Linked DNA regions of Homo sapiens. The protein of the gene in region 3 interacts with the protein of the main gene of each other region in a pairwise test. Each region holds a gene or a part of one and is shown on either strand. Other genes may lie near its edges.

Region 1 (7,146 bases), on a different chromosome or scaffold from region 3:
CTGGGCATGTGGCACGTGCCTGTAGTCACAGCTACTGGGGAGGCCGAGGTGGGAGGATCACTTGAGCTCAGGAATTCCAGGTAGCAGTGAGCTATGATCAAGCCACTGCACTCCAGCCTGGGTGATAGAGTGAGACTGTTTCTAAAAAATTTCAAAAAAATCAATTAAAAAAATACAAAAATTGGAGGGCAGCTGAGGCTAGGCAGGCCAGGAATTGGGTTGAAGTAGCCCCTGCCCTGTTTGTCCCTCAGGCCCTTGTCCCCAACAGGCCTGCAGCAGGAAGAATGCTTGCTACTTTGAGAGGACCTGAGGTCTTGGGTCCTTCCCCAGCACTGTGAGCTCCGAGCTCCCAGCTAAGCACGGTGTCCAGCAGTCGCTCTCAGGGTTCCAGTGAGGGAGGAGGGGAGCAAGGGCCCCCCGCATCCCACCTCCCAGCCTGGTACCAATACTGCTGCTTACCCAGGGACAGTACCTGCCTGGTGCCAGGCCACCACAGGTTTCCGCGCAGGGAGAGCCAGCTCCAAAATGCTCCTCTCCCCAGGAAGGGCTGGTGTCCTGGGGTGGCGGGGAGTAGGGAGACTCCCAGGGCCCTCACTGCCCACCTGCCCCACAGGGCAGCCATGCTGAGCACTCCCTCTCGCACATGGATTCTGCCTGGAGGCTTTGGCTCCAGAACAAACGCGCTGAGGCTGGCAACCAATGACTGAGCGAGCGGCTGCCTGCCTGGCTGGGCCTCCCCACCCCTGACAGATCGGATCTTATCAGGGCTGCAGGAACAGCCCTACCTGGACACCATCTCAGTGTCGTCTGGCTGTCTCGATCCAACGGCGAAGATTGGATCTGTGGGATTCTCTCCAGCACCAGAGCCATTTCCCATCACCTGCTGCTCTGCCCCCACCCCACCCCAAGATTGTTGTCAGAGGCCGGCTGGGAGTGCTCCCAACAGATCCCCATAGGGGCCACCGGCCAAAACATGGTGAGTCCCATCAAGGTGGATGGCAAAGACAGACCAAATACCCATCTAGGCAGACAGGGACGGCAGAAGGAGGGGACATCTGAACAGCCATGGTCCCCCAGACCCTTAAGCCAGGAGAGTAATGCTGTGGCCCCGTACCACTCTGGTTCTCCTGGGTCCCCTGCCCACCCCTCAACATGCCAAAACCCCTCCCTCGAGGGACCACTGCACTAGCTGTTTCCCACCTACAACATTGTTCCCTCACATGCTCATGGTTCATTCCATTGCTTCATCCACCTCCTCCAGGAGGCCTTCCCTGACTACCCTCACCAAAGGACCCCCACTAGTCAGCCTCTCTCACAACATCAGATGCGGCTGTCTTCATCGCACATCACCATGGGATTTTCTTGTTCTTACATCTGTCCATTTGTTTCTGGCCACAGAGAGACATCTGGAATGTCAGCTCCCTGGTGGCTCGGCCTCGTCTGTCTAGTTAACAGCTCTATCCCAGCTCCCAGAATGGTGCCCGGTGGGAAGGAGATGCTCAATATTTGGGGGCTGAACACGTAATTCTCTCCAGGACTTGTCCTCCTCCCCATCCTTTCTTCCACCACCACCAGCCTCCATCTGGCTGGACCTGGCTCAGCTTCCAGAGGTGCGTGAGCCACAGTGGGCTCCCAGCTCCTGGGTCTCAGCGCTGACTGGCATGGCCAGCAGGCTGTTGTTACTGGAGAACCAGCTGTGCCCAAGACCCGCAGTTTGGTTCAGAGCTGCCTCAGGGAAGAGCATGCTGCTGACATCGAGGCCAGGCCTAGTTGGGCGGCCCCACCTTGGCCAGGGTTGTGGGGTGAGGTCATGCCCAGCCCTGCTGCCCTGCCCAGGAGGGAAGTGCTGGGAGTAACCAGTACCAGCACAGCAAGGCAAGCAACTGGGGAGAGGAGGCACAGCTCCTGGGATCAGAGTTGGGGGTGGGGGCAGGAAGAGCCTGTACCAGCGCCACATCCCTCTGAAAGGGTCCAGGAAAGAACCTGCCCTAAGCAAGCCCACCTCACACTGCCCAAGTGGAGTCTCCTAGAGATACTGCCAGGCCCCTCGCTGCCCTGGCCATCAGACCCCTCCAACCCACACCCTCCATCCAAGCGGAAGCGCCCCAGCAACTGACGTGTCCCCATGGCTTGGGGCAGGCAGGCTGCACAGAGCCCCTGCTCTGCCACATCACCCAGGTGCCCAGCCTCGGCTCATGCCCCTTTTCAGTAATAGAAAGCATGTAACTGGATCTAGGGCCTTGCGGGCCCTGGGGGAGAAGGTGGACAGGACCTTGGGGGCCAATGGAGAAAGGTTCAAGGACAGGAGGCAGCTGGCCATGAGTTTGGGCTGTGGGGAGAAACCCCATAGGCAGGAGGGGGTCGGCAGTGGGGGCCAGCTGGGGTACAGAAAATCATCTCTTGGAATTTGGAGGAGGTGAGCGAACAGGAGGCCCCGGGGAGGAGCAGGAAGGCAGAGAGAAGGTTGGGAGCTGCCAGGGGCTGGGTTATGCCCCTTCCGGGGGGGCAGGCCCGGGAGCGCAGGGCCTGGGTTGCTCGGATGAGGTTTGTGTGGGTGCGGGTGAGGTCAGCTCGCGACCTGGGCTCCCCCGGAGAGGAAAGCTGCGGGTGGAGAGAGCGCAGGGAGTTTCAGGGCCCAGGCACTGGCTTTTGGGGGGCGGGTCTCTAAGCTCCCCACCCGAGAGTAGGAAGGTCCCATGGGACGGAGCGTCCTCAGGTTCAGGAAGTGACTGAGGGTCCTCAGGGGTGGGAGTCGCCGAGACTCTTGCAGGCTCTGGGCGGCCTATGTCCCCCTCCCTGCCTCACGCCCCCCAATTTACCTGGGCGCCGAGGCCCGGGCCAGGAGCGCCTGCTCAGCGGCGCCGCGGAGCAGGCTCATGCCCGCGTCACGGCGCGGCTGGCGGGGGCGGCAGGGCGGCGGCGGCGCCGGGCTCCAGGCGGGGACGGCGAGGGAGGCGCGGCCGCAGGGCTAGGGATCGGGCTCCGGCTGGGGCTCCGGCTGGGACTCCGCTCCGCTCCCCCCTCCGCCAGGTCTCGCCGCTGCGCCCCGCCCCCTGCCCCGCCCTGGCGGCCGGCCCCCGCCGTATTCCTCCGAGCCGCGGGACGCGCGATTCTGCCCTGGCGCCCTGGCACCCCCGCACCCGCTTCAGGTCGCCCCCGGTACCCCCAGCTCATTCCCACCGCCCCTCCCTGGGCCCCAAAGCCCACATGGCCTCTCAGCCCCTGAAAGCTGAACTCCACATCAGCTCCCAGCCCCCACATCTCAACCCCTTCACTTCTTCAGGAATCACATACACACCCATACGCCACATCAGCTCCCAGCCCCCATATCTCAATTCCTTCACTTCTTCAGGAATCACATACACACCCATTGCTCCCCTAACCCCATCATGACTCTCTGGGCCCTCACAGCCCAGCTCTCCCAGCCCCACAGTGACCTCCTCTGCTACCCCTCCTCAAGTAGCCGCACCAGCACCTCTGTCTTCCCTGGTCTCCTCTCCACCCTCAAAACATCCAGTTCTCCCATTCTAGGTCCCCCTGAGACTTTGCCCTCAAGCTCAAACTTCATTCCCCTTCATTGCTGCCCCCACCCAGCCCCCAACCCCCTCACCTCTGCCCTTCGGGCCTGTGCAGTGGTTGACTCACTGATCTGTCGGAATCCCCAGTCACAGGCCTCAGCTGTGCCAGGCAGGGACAAGAGAAGTTGCCCAGTGCCTCCTCTGGGGAGGAGCTGTCCCCCCTCTGGTTTTCACGTCTGTACCTTTTTACACCAGGGCTTCTCAAAGTGTAGTCCCTGGACCAGAAGCTTCCCATCACCTTGAAACTTGTTAGAAATGCAAATTCCCTGCCCTACTCAGACCTATGAAATCAGAATTTTTGGGGGTTTCCAGCAGAAATGTGTGTTTTAACAGGCCAGGTGATTCTGATGCACACGAATGTGTGAGAACCACTGCTTTAGACCATATATACAAAACAAAACAATAGGCCACCTGAACAGCCAAAATCCTGAGAAATGAAAATACCTCCACATCCAGCTACTGTCCAGGTGTCTCAGAGGAATAGGCCTAAAGCAGTGAGGGACCAAGGATCCCAACACCCACCCATGGAATGCATGCCCCTGCCCCGGAGACGCCTGGGCCTCAGCCTTGCCCAGGGAGCTTAAAAGGAGGCTGCCTCTGGATGTCTGAAAATTTCCCTGATGGTCATTGTGGTGTCTGTGATCAGCCTGAGCTAACCAGCCCCAGGCCCATGGCCAAGCTAGCCTGGGCCTCAACCTCCTGACCTCCCTATGCGTCTTTCAAACTTGACCTCACCTGCTTTGCTTCAAACCACAGCCCCTAAAGCTCCCAGCACTTGATTCATCATAGCAAACTGTTTTTCAACACCAGAAACCTCTAGGGGAGCTTTGGCCAACAACAACAACACAAATGAATTTTCACAATAAAAAGCCTTCTTTTTTTGTTACTGAGGCTGGAGTGCAGTGGTGTGATCTCAGCTCACTGCAACCTCTGCCTCGGGGCTTAAGTGATCCTCCCTGCTCAGGCTCCTCAGTAGCTGGGTCTACAGGTGTGCACCACCACGCCTAGCTAATTTTTTGGATTTTTTTGTAGAGACAGGGTTTCACCATGCTGCCCAGGCTGGTCACAAACTCCTGAGCTCAAGCAATCCACCTGCTTCGGCCTCCCAAGGTGCTGGGATTACAGGCATGAGCCACTGCACCCCATGTGATGATTTGCTTTTTTACTGTTGAATTTCGAGAGTTGTATATTCTACCTACTAGTCCTTTGTTGAATATGTGGTTTGCAAATATTTTCTCCCAGTTTTTGGCTTGTCTTTTCATCCACTTAACAGAGTCTTTCACAAAACAAAAGTTTTAAATTTCGATAAAGTCTGAATTATCCATGTTTCCTTTTATGGATCACACTTTTGTTGCCTAATCTAAAAACTCTTTGAATTTTCTCCTGTGTTTTATTCTGAAAGTTCCATAATTTTATTTTACATTTAAGTCTGTGATCCATTTTGAGTTGAATTTTATAGGAAGTGTGAGATTTGATAGAGGTTTTGATGTCTTTTTTTGGTTTAGGTTTGATTTCATTTTTTTTTTTTTTTGCCTGTGGATGTCTGATTGTTCTAGCTCTATTTGGTGAAAAGACTCTCATTGAATTGCTTTTGCAACTTCGTAAAAAATCAGTTGGACATATTTCTGGATTCTCTGTTCTATTTCACTGATCTGCATGTCTATCTCTCTGTTAATAACAGTCTTGATTACTATGCCTATATAGTAAGTCTTAAGGCCAGGAGCAGTGGCTCATGCCTATAATGCCAGTACTTTGGGAGGCCAAGGCGGATGGATTACTGGAGGTCAGGAGTTCAAGACCAGCCTGGCCAACATGGTGAAACCCCATCTCTACTAAAAATACAAAATTAGCTGGGTGTGGTGGCGTGTGCTCGGGAGGCTGAGGCAGGAGAATCGCTTGAACCTGGGAGGCAGAGGTTGCAGTGAGCCAAGATCGCGCCATTGCACTCCAGCCTGGGCAAAAAGAGTGGAACTCTGTCTCAAAAAAAAAAGTCTTAAAATCAGGTAGACCAGTGGTCCCCAACTTTTTGGCACCACAGACAGTTTCATAGAAGATAATTTTTCCATGGATGTTGTGGGAGTGTTTTCAGCATGATTCAAGCACAATACCTTTATTGTGCACTTTATTTCTATTATGATTACATTGTAATATATAATTAAATAATTACACAACTCACCATAATGTAGAATCAGCGGGAGCCCTGAGCTTGTTTTCCTGCAATTAGACAGTCCCATCTGGGGGTGATGGGAGACAGTGACAGATCATCAGGCATTAGATTCTCATAAAGAGCCTATGACCTAGATCCCTCGCATGCACAGTTCACAATAGGGTTTTGTTCCTATGAGAATCTAATGCTGCTGCTGGTCTGACAGGAGGCGGAGCTCAGGTGGTAATGTGAACAATGAGGAGCGGCTGTAAATACAGATGAAGCTTCATTCATAGCTGCTCACCTCCTGCTGTGCAGCCAGGTTCCTAACAGACCACAACCAGTACCGGTCTGTGGCCCAGGGATTGGGGACCTCTGAGGTAGATTGTTATTAATTCCTCCCAAGTTATTGGTTTGTTTGTTTGCCACAAGGTTTCACTCTGTCCCCCAAGCTGGTGTGCAGTGGCATGATCATAGCTCACTGCAGCCTTGAGTGCCTGGGCTCAAGGAATCTTCCACCCTCAACCTCCTGAGTAGCTGAGACCACCATGCCCAAGTAATTTTTTAAATTATTGTGTAGAGATGGAGTTCTTACTATGTTGCCCAGGTTGGTCTCAATCTCCTGGCCTTAAGTGATCCTACCAGCTTGGCCTCCCAAGTGTTGGGATTACAGGCATGAGCCAATGCGCCCAGCCCCAACTTACTCTTTTTCAAAATTGTTTCAGCTGTCCTGGTAATATTCTCTATCTTTCTATGTAAATTTTAGAATAATGTTATCTATATCTACAGAATATCTTGCTGGGATTCTGATAGAAATTACATTAAACCTGTATATCAATTGGGGAGCATTGACATTTTTACTATGCTGAGTCTTCCAATTCAAGAACACAGTATGTCTCTCCATTTATTTATTTATTTCTAATGTCTTTCATCAGCATTATGGAGTTTTCAGCATACAGGTCCTATACACATTTTGTTAGCTTTCCACCTAATTATTTTATTTACTTATTTTTGGTGATTTTAAATGGTATTGCATTTTTAATTTTGCTGCCCATGAATGAGTTCATTGCTGGTATATGGAAATAATTTTTGTATAATTATATTTTGCAACCTTGCTGAACATATTAGTTCTAGGAGGTTTTTGTCTTTTTTTTTTTGGTAGATTCTTTGAGATTTTCTACATAGATAATCATGTCATCTGCATGTAGAAAAGGTTTTTTTCCTCTTTTTCTACCTATTTGTTAGTGGTTTATCACATTGGCTAAAATGTTCAGCACTATGTTGTAGTATGAGCTGACATCCTTACCCTGTTGCTGATCTTCGGGGAGAGCATTCAATTTTTCATCATTAAGGACCAACGTTAGCTGTAGGTTTTTTGTAGATGCTCTTTATCAAATTGTGGAAGTCCTCCTCTCTTATTTT
Region 2 (7,025 bases), on a different chromosome or scaffold from region 3:
TAATAAATAAATAAAAACAGTGCCAAGAGCTTGTTTGGAAAAAAGCCCTTGAAAATATAATAGATAATTACACAGTTAGTGGGAGAGCTGATGATCTATAAGGAGCCTATTTATTTTTATTTTTACATACTGGACTATAACTGAGTAGTTCAAACAAGCTAGTTTCATTAAATAGATACTCTAAAAGAAGAGAAAAGAAATATGGAAAAATTTTATCCATGAATGATTCTGGACACACCTTGTTTTTATTTATCAGGCACGTTAGGCAGACATCTTGTCATTCTTTTTGTCTTTAACTCATTATTCCCTATAAGATCAATACGATTATAATTGGTTTGATTTCCTGAAAATGTTGCTAAACAGCATTTGTTTTTATTTGTAGCATTTCTAAGAAGCATTAATTATATGCATCAGCAAAGAATCTCTAGACATTTCAGTACATTGTAAGTGATTTTAATGTTTGATGTGGGATGTTTTCACGTATGTGAAGAAAACTGTCAAGACTAACAGCAACAGCAGCACAAAGCCTAAATTGTCCTCTGAAAGGAAGAGAAACGCAAGAGATGGTGGAGTGCGGGTGCTGCCGATATCTATCCTGCCTTTCTTCTTTGGCCTGGTATTTAAAAGCACAATTAGACAATAAATCAGGTGTCTTTGTCCAGTCAGTTGGATTCATCTAATAGAAAAATCTCAAAAGGATTTTTTTAGTATTCTCATTAAATGCCTGAGTCTTCGGAGCAGGGTCCCAGACACCTGGCTTGGAGGGTGGGGGAAGGTGACCATTACTTATCAGACATTTGTCCTGTTCCCTGCTGTGTGGTTAAAGAAAACATCTTCTCTAACTTCTGCATAGTGTGCACAGATTTTCAGTAGATTTCCTCACTCAACAAACTTTTTTTTTTCTGAGAACTTTTAGCTACTTTGAAGAAATTGCATGACCCCTTCACCATCTAATATATGTGAGCCTTTTCCTCCCTCCTGAAAATTTACTTCTCATAGGTGTTTGTTAACTGCTGTATTCAGGATGCTAGAAAATCAGTTCTTCGTGGAGAAGAACAGAAATGCAGAATCCCAATGGAGCTTTTGCTTGCCTAGAAGAAGTAGAATGAAAGGCTGAGCTCCCTGGAATATAAGCAATGTTTGGTTACAAAATACCCATCAATAAGATCTGATGTAGGGATTTGACCTGTTAATGTGGGTCTTTCCCCTTAAATATCAGCAGTCCTTTCGGCCTTGCATCAGGGAAGTCTTGCTACTCATCTTGCTGGAGAGGGAATTCCTCAGACTTCAGTGGCTCTTTGAGGCCATTTGAGATAGAATACTTCACTGAGGTTTCCTGAAACTCATATTTTCATACAGATCTTGAGCTGAACCATGTTCTTGTCATCCTTGCTTCACTCTGTTCTGGGTAGACGGCACAGATGCCGGATTCCTTTTGCCTGGCAAAAAAATTTAAAAAAAGAAAAAAAAACACCACACACATAAAGTAAACTCTTTCTGAGCAGAGCACTATAACTCATAACTTTAGTTTAAATCTGGGCTTTAAAAAAAACAAATATTTTAATAAGCCAATTTTAAAGGCTGAACTTTTATGACGGTTTTTAAGCTTAGTATTTATATTAATCTATTCTCACTGGTGTCTTTAAAAACCCTGTGAATGCATGCTGGAATGTCTGTTTATGTTTGTGTCTTTTCCTGGGAAAGGATAAATGTGCTGCAAAAAGCAAACCAAATACAGAACTCTCCGCTAGCAGAGAGTTCACAAATGAGGCAATAAAATTCAAAGAAGAGATGAATAAGTTACTGTAGCCAAGGACTGGAAAACCATAAAGGAGAAACAGAATCTAAGAGATACAGACATGGATGCTTTCAAACGTAAAGGCAAGATGAAACACTACAAACAGAAACTGATTAAAAAGATATTCCACATGGTCACCTGAGTCTACACGTGATAAAATTGCATAGCACTAAACACACACACACACACGCACATGCACGTGCACACACATGTACACACGAGTGTATGTAAAACTGGTGAAATCTGAATGAGGTCTGGGGACGATATTGACGCCAGTTTCCTGATTATGATAATTGCAAGATGTCATCACTGGGAGAAGGGAGTGAAGATATGAGAATCTCTGTATAATATTTCTTGCAACCTCATGTGAATCTATAATTATCTCAAAATTAAAATAAAAAAGATATTCTACAAAAGTATTAAATCTATATATTTAGATAAGCAAATTATCTAAGAAATTACTACTAAGATTTATCTCAGAGTAATAAACTAAAAATGTGACTTGAGCAAAACTCCACATATTTTTTCTGACGCCATTTGAGGAATCTCAATATATTTCCAATATATAACTAATTAGAAGTGGTTCCCTGTAAGTCTTAAATAAAGAATAGTATCCCAGAAATATGAAAGGTGAAATACCAATTATAATAGCAATACATTTATTCCTATACTAATAAAGAAAATATTTTACACAAAATTTTGGGAAATATCTACCTTAAACTGATACCTGTGTTATATTTGCTTTTTAAGATACTAATTTTATATTAACTTTCATTAAGCATACACACACAATTCTAAAGCCAATGATTTATAAAAATTATTCGCCAAGAAGTATAGAGATTGAAGTTTTAGTATTTGGAGCCATAAGCAGTGAGAGGGAGAGGATATAGCAGAGGAGGGAGGGAGAGAGAGAGAGAGAGAGAGGGAGAGAGGGAGAGATGGAGAGAGAGAAGGAGAGAGGGAGAGATGGAGAGAGAGAGAGAGAGAGAGAGAGAGAGAGAAACTCAAACCCTAAGCCCAGTTATAGTTATTTTTAATGAATAATTGTTTAGAAACATATTTTCTGTTTTTGTTTGGTAGTAACCCTTTGGATGAGATTGAGTGATATTAAACTATGCCTTACCTGAATGCTGATTTGGAAATGAGGGCGGTAGCATTAACAAGGTGAATTTTAAGCTCTTGTAAACTGAGGCACAGTGTGATTTCTCTTCAGCGATTATTAATGGTTGTCACTTCGAAAAGAGACTTGGATCTGAAATTGGAAAAGCCAACACATAACTTGATTCCAGCATGAGGAAAATGTTTTAGTGCTTAGTTAAAAATAGAGTCATTTTGAACCCAAACGGTATCTGACGTGCTTCAGATATCTGGGCTATTTCATCCTCAACTGTGGTGTGATAATATGATGATCCTGTGGTGATGAAGATGAGAGAGCGCGGCTGCGTGAGCTGAGTGCAGTGTCTGCTTGTCTACCGGGGCTGTCCCTCACTGAGCGGTTTTCTATCCTAATATTGTTTTCCTCTGTTATTTGACCAGGGAAAGATTCAGATGACCCAGCTTCTGTCGAAGCCTCATGGAGAACTATAGTTTTACTTCTCAGACCCGAAGAGCAGTGCCTTTAAACTTGGACACATCTCTCCTTTCTTTAGTTCAGATTTTCCCTTCACTGAAATGAAAGACAGGGTTGAACTCAGAAGAGCTTTCGGTTATCACATTCGATTATCCTGGAAAATACTCCTGTCTTTTTAGTTCACATTCTGCCTTAAAAAAATAGCCATCAGTATCTTCTGGGAGGAAATGGTAAATTTTGTTATGTGGTCTGGCATTAGAGTCCTAATTCTCACTGTCTAATTTGACAGACGGTTCACCTCTGTGTCTCTGGATGTGCAGGTCTGGTGTGCGACTGACGGGAAAGATTTGGGCAAACCCCTTGATTTGTATTAACCCTTCGACCTTGACTAAACATCAGACCCCACCCTGTGGCTGAGGTCTGTGGTGTGGTCACAGGCAGAGTCTTTCCGGAGCACCAGGCAGAGCAGCTCCCCCCAGGAGGGGTTAGGGCAACTTTTTGGCCTTTTGCTGTGAGAGGGGAGGGTTAGAGATCCTTTTGCTCTCTTCCCCGTGGAGAAAAAAATGTTGAAACTTTCGTCGTTACTACTGTTTTTCTGTCGCTATCCAGACAAAATGCCACCCTAGCATTTCTGTTAAATCTCTGTAAGTAGATGCCCCTGCTGAAGGGTGGAGAGATTTTGGCCCGCTTCCGAGGCAGGGGCTCCATGAGGGACAGCTTGGAGCATGAACAACCTCCTAAAGGAAAGCACAGGCCAGTCATGTACAATCTCGGGCTCTGCTGCCACGGCAGCTTTCTTTGTCTGTTCTACTTTGAATTAGCATATTCTGTATGTGAAAATGCAAGCAGGCAGCGTTTTCTTTGAATCACGAGATCTACAAGTACCGTTTCCTTTCCTTCATCTCTGCTCTTTGAGTGGTTCGTGTGGCCGGTGCTCAGAGGGCTCGGAGTGGCAAGCTGGCTGCCTGCGTGGACTCCCTGGACCTGCGACTTGTCCTTTACTTCCACAACTCAGACTTTTAGCTCGGCGGAAGAGTGCACAGGCGCAGCGCAAGCTAGCTAGCCTGCAGGGTTGGCAAAACCTATACCGACTGGGTCCCTTCCGGAAAGTTTGTGTGAACTTTAAATCTCAGTCTCAGGGAGACTGTTTTGTCTTGATACATAACAGAATAAGGCAGTTATCATTTCTTTGGGAAATGCCTAAAATACCGCAAATTGGAAGGGAAGGGAAAGGAAGGAGGAGAAGGCATACTCCTCTTTCTCAAATCGGGCATCTACACGTCTCTGTTCACATCATTGACACCAATGGGCGAACAGTGTCTTCATTGAGGATTAATTTTCCTGAAATCAAATAATCCCAAATTGCATACTACATATATACTGGTTTCTAACTAGTCAACATCTTCAACATATGCCCAGCCGCCTGGCTTTCCTCTCGTTCATGATAATCTGCATGCGTAGATGGGAAGCTAGGAGAGAAAGATGTGATCATTTCGCATTCCTTGTTTTCTGTCTGGTGAACATTTCTTCTCCAGCAAGTGTTTCCTACCGCTTCCCCCAAACCTGCATATACTCTTCTATATTCTTTAGTTGAAACAGCATCTTTTAAAAACATGATTAACTGAAGTCCGCTTGAGGTTTCACTTTATAAAAAAGTAATAGAGGAAGAACGAGAAGCCCACCATCAGGTCCCGTGATAGCTCAGTCACACGTGGAAATACAGACTGTAAATACAGAATGGCCGAGGACCCTCTGAGCAAAGGTCATCTAGGGGCTCCCGAAGCCTCGTGCGGCCCATAGATGTGTGCTCAGCACCCCCGCCTCAGTGTGTGCTTGGCGACTCCCTCTCCTTCGTGGGCTCATGTTACTATTTTCTAAAAGTATTGTTTCACTGATACCAGAACAGGAGTGCTCCAAACAGATATCTGTACCCTAAGAATCCCAGGGTGCCCTGTTTTTGTTGATTTCTCTGGTGCAGAAGGACCTGTTTCCACGATCCCCAAACTCCCTGGGGGCCGTGCGGTGGCTGTGGCAGAGGGGGTGCATCCAGGACTGGCGTTTTATGGCCCCCGAGGTAGGGTCAGGAGAGAGCTTATCTTGAGGTCCCGTCTTGTGTGACTGCGAAGGTGTTAATAGGCAGGGTCCAGGTGGCCCATGCGAGCTGGCAGCATTGGAAGGGTAGAATTAATTGAAGGGCATTTTACTGGGTGTTAAATTATTGCTAATTCCAAAACTTTCTTTCAGACTATTTTTTTCTGAGAATAGAGATTTCCTTCTAATTAAACAACAGGCAAAAGATGAGCACGGTTACTCACCTCTCTGCTCGTTTCAGTGTTGCTGTATGTCATCTCCTTTCTTGTTTTACTACAGTTCACAAGTGAATAATATCATGTAATTTCAGTGTGGAACAATGTAATTTCCATGTGCGTCCCCAGCAACCCTGTGTACATTAGTCTATCATTTATAATTTATAACATGGAAAAGTTTTTTTTTTATGAAGGACAAAATAAAAGAGAAGGTTAGGATGTGAATAGGTCAAGTGATATATGAAGAATTTCACAAGGGATCAGGGCTACGGAAGGGACTCAGGTCTCTTAAGAATAGGTCCCATTCTGTATTTATCTTCAGGATTGTGTTGGGGCCGTGTGCCTCTCTCTGCTGCTGGCCATGGGAGACCCGGCACCTCTTCCTCAGTGTCCCTCAGAGACATAGAAGACAGCAGTTTCTCAGAAAAAGCACCCTTCCTGCCGTTCTCAGAAAAACAACACTGTGAAAATCCAGCAGGGCCCCTCCACACTGCTGCAATAGTGCCACGAGGGAGGCCGCTGCAGACACAGTCACTTGAAGAGGACCTCAGGTGCCTTCCCTTCCTGTTTGGTCCCAGGCATCAACACTGCCCAGCAAAGTGTGTCCAAGAAGCCCCAGAGGGGGCCGTGTCTCTGAGGGGCCTGTGACAATCGCAGGTGATTCAGATGCCAGAGAAAGCAGAGGCCCCCAGAGGAAGGTGGTCAGGGGGCCATCTGCTGTGCCTGGGGTCAAGGACCACTGGAGGGAGCTTGGGTTGGCCTGAGACTGTTCAGGGGAGGGGCACCATGGGCATGGTGCCCCTGCATGACGGGCGGGCCCTCCCATGAGAGAGGAAGAGGGGAGCAAGAGGAAGGACGCTGCTGGCTGTTTGCAAGTAGCTGTCCCACCACCCTGGCACTTCCCTGGTCCCTGAGGCTGGACGGGCCTTGGAGCCCATCTTCGCTAAGGCCCAAGTCACCTATCAGCTCGTGCTGATGAATGTCTGAGCATGAGCCCAGCACGGCTCAGCATTTGCCAAGGTTAAGGAAAGGAAGTGGTAACTCAGCATTGATTTCCTCCCCCTGGATTTAATAGCGATAGATCTAAACCTGCAGTCAGATATCACTTTGAAAGCCTTGGCTCATCTAAAGACAGCTTCCAAGAGACGATCAGGCCAGGCCACTGCTGCGGTTTGCAGAGGAAGCAGGACCAGCCCTGTCTTTGCTGAAAGAAGCCAAACGACCATCTTGTCTGTCTCGTAAAGCATCCTTCTGCTTGAATAGCAGAGCTCTTTGAACGGCAATAAAATATTACATTGAGGCTGGGCGCAGTGGCTCATGCCTGTCATCCCAGCATTTTGGGAGGCCAAGG
Region 3 (7,025 bases):
CAGTGGGCAGCATTGTTGGGCAGGGGAAGGAGCCAGGGTTGGGGAGGTGGCAGGAATGGAGAGCGCGAGTGGGTGAACTACTACAGAGCCCCAGGTGGTGGCAGAGATGGGCTGGAAGGCCAGCGCCTCGGCAGGCTCGGGCAGGGGAACAGCTCCATCCAACATGCCTATTACAAGCTCACTCTTGGGAGGCCATGGGAAGGTAGGCAGGGAGAGACAAGAGGGACAGCAAGGGCTCTAGAAGTCTACGAGGAGAGGGCGGCGAGCCAGGCCTCAGCCATTCACTAAGCTGGGTACAGTGGGTCTGGGGATGGCTTAGCGAGGGTGAGCTGAGATGGGGGAGCTGACTGGCTGCAGCCTGGACAACACCAGACAACGCATTTGGTGCGTGTCCCACCGCAGGGCTTGGTGGCATGTGCACTCACAAAGTGCTGGCTTCCACCTCGTAGGTCTCCTTAATGTCCACTTTTGTAGAAGAGTCATCTGTAAGGAAGATGCAGAAAACTAAGATGACTTTCAGGGACATAGTGGGGAGGCATTTTGAGTCCAGCCCACTGCTGTATTTACAGGAGACAGCGGCAGCCCTGGTCTTCAGGGACCCTGCTGTCCTTCATCAAGCTGCCCGCACTCTGGAATGTGCTGTGTGCCTCAGGGCAGGGCTTCCCAGACTTGAGCCCACATACACCCCTCCTGGGGATCCTGGCAAATGCAAATCCTGCTGCACGCTGGGCTGAAGTACACATTCACCCATGGCCAGAGCCAGCAAAAGCTGTCTTTGAGGTATCACTCATGTGCCAGGCAGGGTTACTGGGGCTTTGTCTCCTTTAACCCAGGCATATATCACCCCTGTCTTCACTTGTAGATTAGGAAGTAAGTCAGAGAGTTACACAACTTGGCCCAGGTCACACAGCAGAAACCACAGTCAGAGCCGGGCAGTCTGACTCCCCATCTGAACCCAGTGAAGCCACAGGATTCCCAAGACCCTCAGACCAGCAAAGGGTCTGGCACTGAGCAGCTACATTCAACAAATGACATTAGGTCCGTGTGACACAGACTGTAATTTGCTATTTCAAACCTGAGGAAGGCACATTTCACACCAGCACAGACAGTGAGTGAAAGCTTTGTGAGCGAGGCAGGTGAGTGTTGCAGAGAGGGTAAGATTTTAAATGAAGCAGAGGGAGAGGCTGAGAGATAAAAGGGACATTTCTGGCACTAGGAACAAGGTAAGTATGGAGGGCAGAATAATGACCCCCCAAAGACGTCCACATCCTAATCCCTGGAATTGGTGAATATGTTACCAATTTCAAAGGGGAGTAAAGGATGCTTATCAGCTGACCTTGAAATAGGGAGATGACCCTGGAGAATTTGGGTGGGCTCAATGTGATTGCAAGAGTCCTGAAATGCAGAGGAAGCTGACAGTCAAAGGAAGATGTGACTGTGGAAGAGGTCACGTGGCTGGCTGTGAAGACAGAGGAAGGGCCATGAGCCAAGGCATGCAGCCGCCTTTAGGAGCTGGAAAGACAAGGAAATGGCTTCTTCTCTGGAGCCTCCAGAAGGAACCAGCCCTGTGGACACCTCAACTTTAGCCCAGTGGGACCCACAATGGACTCTTAACGTATAGAATTATAAGAGAATATATTTCTGCTGTTTATGCTGCTATGTTTTGGCATAGCTGTAGTAGAGAGAACACAGCAAGCAAAACTCCAAGGCAGAAATAAGCAGAGAATGCATGCATGTGCGTAACGTGTGCACATCTGTGTGTGGATCCCACGGGGAGGTCTTGGGAAAGGCTGGCAGGGGAAGAAGCCCACTTCAGCAACCCCCAGTAGTGGTGTTACATGATGTGTTTACTTTATGAAAATTCATTCAACTGTACATGTATGACTTGTGTACTTCTCAGTAAAAAAAAAATTATTAAAGAAAAAAAGGCCCTTTGGGAATTTTAAAGCACAAGGGCCAAACCAGTCGCACTAAAACTGAATGTTTAATTACAGCTCGATAAATCATCTGCTACTCATATGGTACATTCCTCTGGATAAGCTGTTGACTTCTAAGCCTCCACTTCCCCATCTCTAAAATGGGGATGAAGATTGCACCTATCTCGCTGGGCCACCGAGGACTAAATGAGATAGAGAGGATGCCTGAGAGCTCAGCAGCTGTCTCTCTGCAGCTGCTGGGCCAACACAAGGCGTGTAGTGCCCACAAAGGGCTCTGGCACCAGCAGCAAGAAAGGGAAGAAGGAGGCACTGAGGAGCAGCCCTCACACCAGCACAGGCTTCTCCACCATTTACTCTCTTCACTGAGATGTGCGAGTTACTGGGGAAAGGGCAGAGGGCTGGGACTTATCTCCGTAAAAAGAAGAAATTGTACTCAACAAGCCGCACTGTTTCCAACAGCCTTTTTTTTTTTCTTGGTATTTTTTAGTAGAGACAGGGTTTCTCCATGTTGGTCAGGCTGGTCTTGAACTCCCGACCTCAGGTGATCCGCCCGCCTCAGCCTCCCAAAGTGCTGGGATTACAGGCATGAGCCACCACACCCAGCCTCCAACAGCTTTTTATGCACCTCAATTTATATAACCCATTAATCCTCAATAAGTAATACATCTGAAAAACAGATGATGTTTTTGAAGACTTAACTCAAGTGAGCTTGCTGATGAAGTGTTTTCAATGGACTAACAGACTCCTGAAAATGCTGTGTGGGCCATGCAGGAAGAGACAGCTCTGGGGTACCTTCCATTCTTCCCCATCTGCCACTGCTCCACCACTGCCAGCTGGCCTCCCAGGGCAGCCTGAGCAGCTTCCCATGGGTCTGGCCATGGTCCTGGAAGGAGTTTCACATTAAGAGCAGCCATAGTCTGGGCATACTGAAAAGGAGGCTCCCCAGACCCACTCTCAGCCTCCCCAATTCCATCACAGGCCCCAGTGCTAGGAGCCTTCTCCAAGCTCTTTGTTCCGAGTTAAGTGAAGTGACTTTAGCCACAAGTGGTTCCAAAAAAGTGTTCACAGACCCCAAATTTATTCCAGGAAGCCATAGCGCTGACCTGGTGCAACTCTCTCAAGGACAGGTGACACTTCTGCCTTCATGAAACCCTATGGGCTAATGTGAACAGCAAAGTCTGGAAACAAAAGGCCACCATGTCACGGCAGTAACTGCGCTATTCCAGGAGTAACTCATGGGGAGCTGGGGGCCACTGCAGTAGCCCCTCCTGTCCCTGCTCCCACCCGCTGCCCACTCTCACTCAACATACCGCTGTGCAGGGACAGGTGGTGGGTCGGGGTAGAGGCCCCATCAAATATCGCTCTGTCCAGAAAGTCGATGGTGGACTCCGTGTAAACAACCTGGAAGACCTGGCCTAGCAGACAGCAAAGCTCCTCCGCAGCGACCTGCAGTGGGGGACAGCAGCTGCTCGGTCAGTCTGGCTGGAGACTGCGCCTTCCCAGGCGGCTTCCAGGATACCTGGGGCAGCCCAGATGCTCAATAAACATGAATGAAGAGTGGATACCAGAATGTGTCCCTCTGCCTTTCACTGACCCAAAGGGGTGTCAAAAGAGAGACCCAGCCAACTGCCCCAGGACTCTATCTAGGACTGCCATGTGGCCCAGGGGTGGTATTGCAAGTGTGAGGGGACTGTGCAGGGCACAAGTGTTAGCTGCCAGTCCAACGTCTTCTTTCCATTAACCTGACCTATCAACACCCTCACAACCCTATCCCAGCCCAGGAAAGAGGTGAGAGGAGATACCATCAGTATCACAGCCCACCTGGAGGCATTTCTAACAGCTATAAAACAGTTTTATAACAGTGTGCTGTCTAAAGCAGAGGCTCTCAACTGGGGCAATTTTTGTACCCCTCCCAGGGGACATGTAGCAATATCTGGAGACATTTTCAGCTGTCACAAGGGGAGAAGCTGGGATGCTGCTCAACACCCTACAGTGCACAGGGCAGCCTCCCACAATGGAAAATTATCCGGCTAAAAATGACAGTAGCACCAACACTGAGAAATGCTCATTAGAGGATATTTAAGGTGGGTGGTCACTAGCATCCATTTTACAGATATGGAAATTAAACAAAGGTGTTAAGTGACTGCCAAGGCCCCACAGCTATTGGGTGGCTGAGGGGGCCCCAAATCCTAGCCTACAAGGGCCCAGCCCTTGGCTCTTCCAGGTTGTGAGGAATCTGCAAGCACAGTCCTTAACACCAGGCAGGTCTAGGATGCACAGGTGACCGCCGCTGCCCGCCCATCAGCGTGGGGGCACCTTGAAGAATGATAAGCAAAAAGCTCAGTGGCCAGGTGGTCTCAGAGAAGTTGCTGGGGGTTGGAGGTAGGAGGGTCAGAAGGCACAGGGGTGGGAACCGGTGGGGAGCCTGGGCCTGGGGCAGGACCTGGGATGCAGTCATGCGCAGAGGAGCTGTGGGCAGGGCCAGGATGGGGGCAATGCCTGGGGCAGGGTTGAGCAGAGAGAGGTGGGGCTGGGTGGAGACTAGGGTGAGGCAGGGACAGGCAATGGCAGAGGAAGTAGCTGGGGCACCCAGCAGTGCCCAGCACTGTGCTGGGTGTGGCCAGGGTGGGGCTGGCCATGAGCAGGGTCTGGGAGGAGCCAGTTCTGAGTAAGTGGGGCGAGAAAGTCTCACCTTGCTCTCTGCAGCCAGGATGACCAGGCAGCATGCCTCCACGGGCCCAACTGCACTCTCCGACAGGGAGCCTGCACTGAGGCCTCTGGAACTTTCCGCACACAGACTCTGGCTGGGGGAGATCCCTGGGTCCTGGGCTGAGAAGTCAACACCATCTCAGTTTAGCACAGTGGAAGGGCAGGCATGGGGGCACTTGAGGAAACAGCTGAGGCCGCCATGGAAACAGGCTGAGAGGACCTTTACCTGGCTCAGGCACCCACAGAACGACTCAGGTGAAGGGCCTGCACCAGACACACTTCGCTTCTCTAAATAAGGGTGGGAACACGCGACCCCTGAGCTCCAAGGGCACCAGAGCTGCATGTCATCCTGCAGTTTCACACGCTTCAAGTTCATATACAACAGACCACATATACAACCCTGAGAACAGTCACCTCCAGGAGGTTTCCATGTGTTCTGGGGAGTTCCCTTCTTACAGATGGGTAAACTGAGGCATGGGAAAGTGAAAGGCCTGGCCTGAGGGCGTGTGAGTTGCACTGTCCACATGGCAATCTAGACGGTCAGACCCCAGTGCCCTTGTTTCTAACATCCTACCCATTGCCTCCCTAGACAAATGAGGTTCTCCTGAAATACATGGAGTAACTCAGTGGTTTTCCTGATGGCAGAAGTGAGGCCAATCCCCAGGAAGCAGGGCTCTCACCATCAGTTCGGACCACCCTGGGAGGACTTCAAGACTGAAAACAAAACCTAGAAGTGCCACTAGTGCCAGGGTGTCAGAGGGCAGGCCAGCCTCAGGAGGGAGAAGAAGGCCGTCCCAGGCCACATGCAAAGTTAGCGCATGCACAGAGACAAGGGCTCCATAAGAAACTGTACCTCAAACCCCACAGTGAGACTCCTGGGGCTGCTCTGTCCCTATGGCAGCCACTGGCCACAGGACTACTGAGTATGCAAAATGTGATGAGCCCACATTGAAATGTGTGAGTGCAAACTATACACAGGGTTTCAGAGGTAGGCAAAGAAAGAATGCTATGTAGCTCAACGATTTTTATATTGATTATATACTGATGTAATAATGTTTTGGGTACGGAGGGGTAAATAAAATATATTATTGAAAATAATTGGCCAGGCGCAGTGGCTCATGGCTGTAATCCCAGCACATTGGGAGGCCAAGGCGGGTGGATCACCTGAGGTCAGGAGTTCAAGACCAGCCTGGCCAACATGGTGAAACCCCATCTCTACTAAAAATACAAAAAAATTAGCTGGGCGTGGTGGCTCATGCCTGTAATCCCAGCTACTCGGGGGGCGGAGATTGCAGTGAACCAAGACCACACCATTGCACTCTAGCCTGGGCAACAAGCACCAAACTTGTCTCAAAAAAAAAAAAAGGCGGGCACAGTGGCTCATGCCTGTAATCCCAGCACTTTGGGAGGCCAAGGTGGCGGATCACAAGGTCAGGAGATCAAGATCATCCTGGCTAACACGGTGAAATACTATCTCTACTAAAAATACAAAAAATTAGCCAGGCGTGGTGGCAGGAGCCTGTAGTCCCAGCTACTCAGGAGGCTGAGGCAGGAGAATGGCGTGAACCTGGGAGGCAGAGCTTGCAGTGAGCTGAGATCACGGCACTACACTCCAGCCTGGGCAACACAGCGAGACTCCGTCTCAAAAAAAAAAAAAAAAATTTACTGGTTTCCCTTTACTTTTTTTCTTTTTTTGGTATGAGTTTGGTAAGAAATCTCTACCTTTTAAACATTTTTAAATGTTGGCTCCCTGGTGTGTGCCTGTGGTAGTTCTCAAGGAAGCAGGGTGGGCAGCCTAAGGATGCGGGCAGCGAGTTGTGTGCCTCTCCTATATCATCCAGGAAGTGCTACCACGGGTGCACGGGTGACCCTGCCCCATCTGGCACCAACTCAAGTCATCACCCTCCAAGCAGCTCCTGCCACATGGACCCTATTGCAGCTAGACCTGGCCCCCAACTTCCCCACTCCTGTGCTATCCCAAATACCAGCGTACTTTTGGTCCAAAGAGGCACAGAGACTTGCTTGCACATAGCAGGCACCAAGTAAACGTTAGCTATTCACCTGCTAGTCTCTTATGCTGAGAACTCTGGATGCCTAATCCTAAATACAGCATGGCGGCCCAGTGCAGTGGCTCATGCCCATAGTCCCAACACTTTGGGAGGCTAAGGCAGGAGGATCGCTTGAGGCCAGGAGTTCAAGACCAGCGTGGGCAACATAGAGAGACTTCATCCTTACAAAAATTTTTAAAATATTTTAAAAATTAAAAAATAAACACAGCACACCTTATGTAACACAGGGGACACACAACTGCTCCGGTGCATCCACAAAAACAAGGAAGATGGCCCCCAGGACACAGGGATTCACTCTCTTCCTTTAAAT

The links. The genes of interacting proteins can lie anywhere in the genome.
Region 1: the proteins of CCM2 (region 3) and DOK4 interact in binary tests that used the Homo sapiens proteins (3 or more experiments, as listed by UniProt).
Region 2: the proteins of CCM2 (region 3) and TWIST2 interact in binary tests that used the Homo sapiens proteins (3 or more experiments, as listed by UniProt).

The regions. Positions count from the first base shown.
Region 1 is NC_000016.10:57,483,486-57,490,631, forward strand, and holds the start of DOK4 (docking protein 4), read right to left. Parts: upstream 3,009-7,146; 5' UTR 2,820-3,008; intron 1-2,819. UniProt on the Homo sapiens protein: DOK proteins are enzymatically inert adaptor or scaffolding proteins. They provide a docking platform for the assembly of multimolecular signaling complexes.
Region 2 is NC_000002.12:238,850,682-238,857,706, forward strand, and holds part of TWIST2 (twist-related protein 2), read left to right. Parts: intron 1-382; exon of another isoform or gene 383-7,025. UniProt on the Homo sapiens protein: Binds to the E-box consensus sequence 5'-CANNTG-3' as a heterodimer and inhibits transcriptional activation by MYOD1, MYOG, MEF2A and MEF2C. Also represses expression of pro-inflammatory cytokines such as TNFA and IL1B.
Region 3 is NC_000007.14:45,066,184-45,073,208, reverse strand, and holds part of CCM2 (cerebral cavernous malformations 2 protein), read right to left. Parts: intron 4,767-7,025; coding exon 4,630-4,766; intron 3,384-4,629; coding exon 3,248-3,383; intron 2,821-3,247; coding exon of another isoform or gene 2,672-2,820; exon of another isoform or gene 1,460-2,671; coding exon of another isoform or gene 1,337-1,459; intron 484-1,336; coding exon 426-483; intron 1-425. UniProt on the Homo sapiens protein: Component of the CCM signaling pathway which is a crucial regulator of heart and vessel formation and integrity. May act through the stabilization of endothelial cell junctions. May function as a scaffold protein for MAP2K3-MAP3K3 signaling.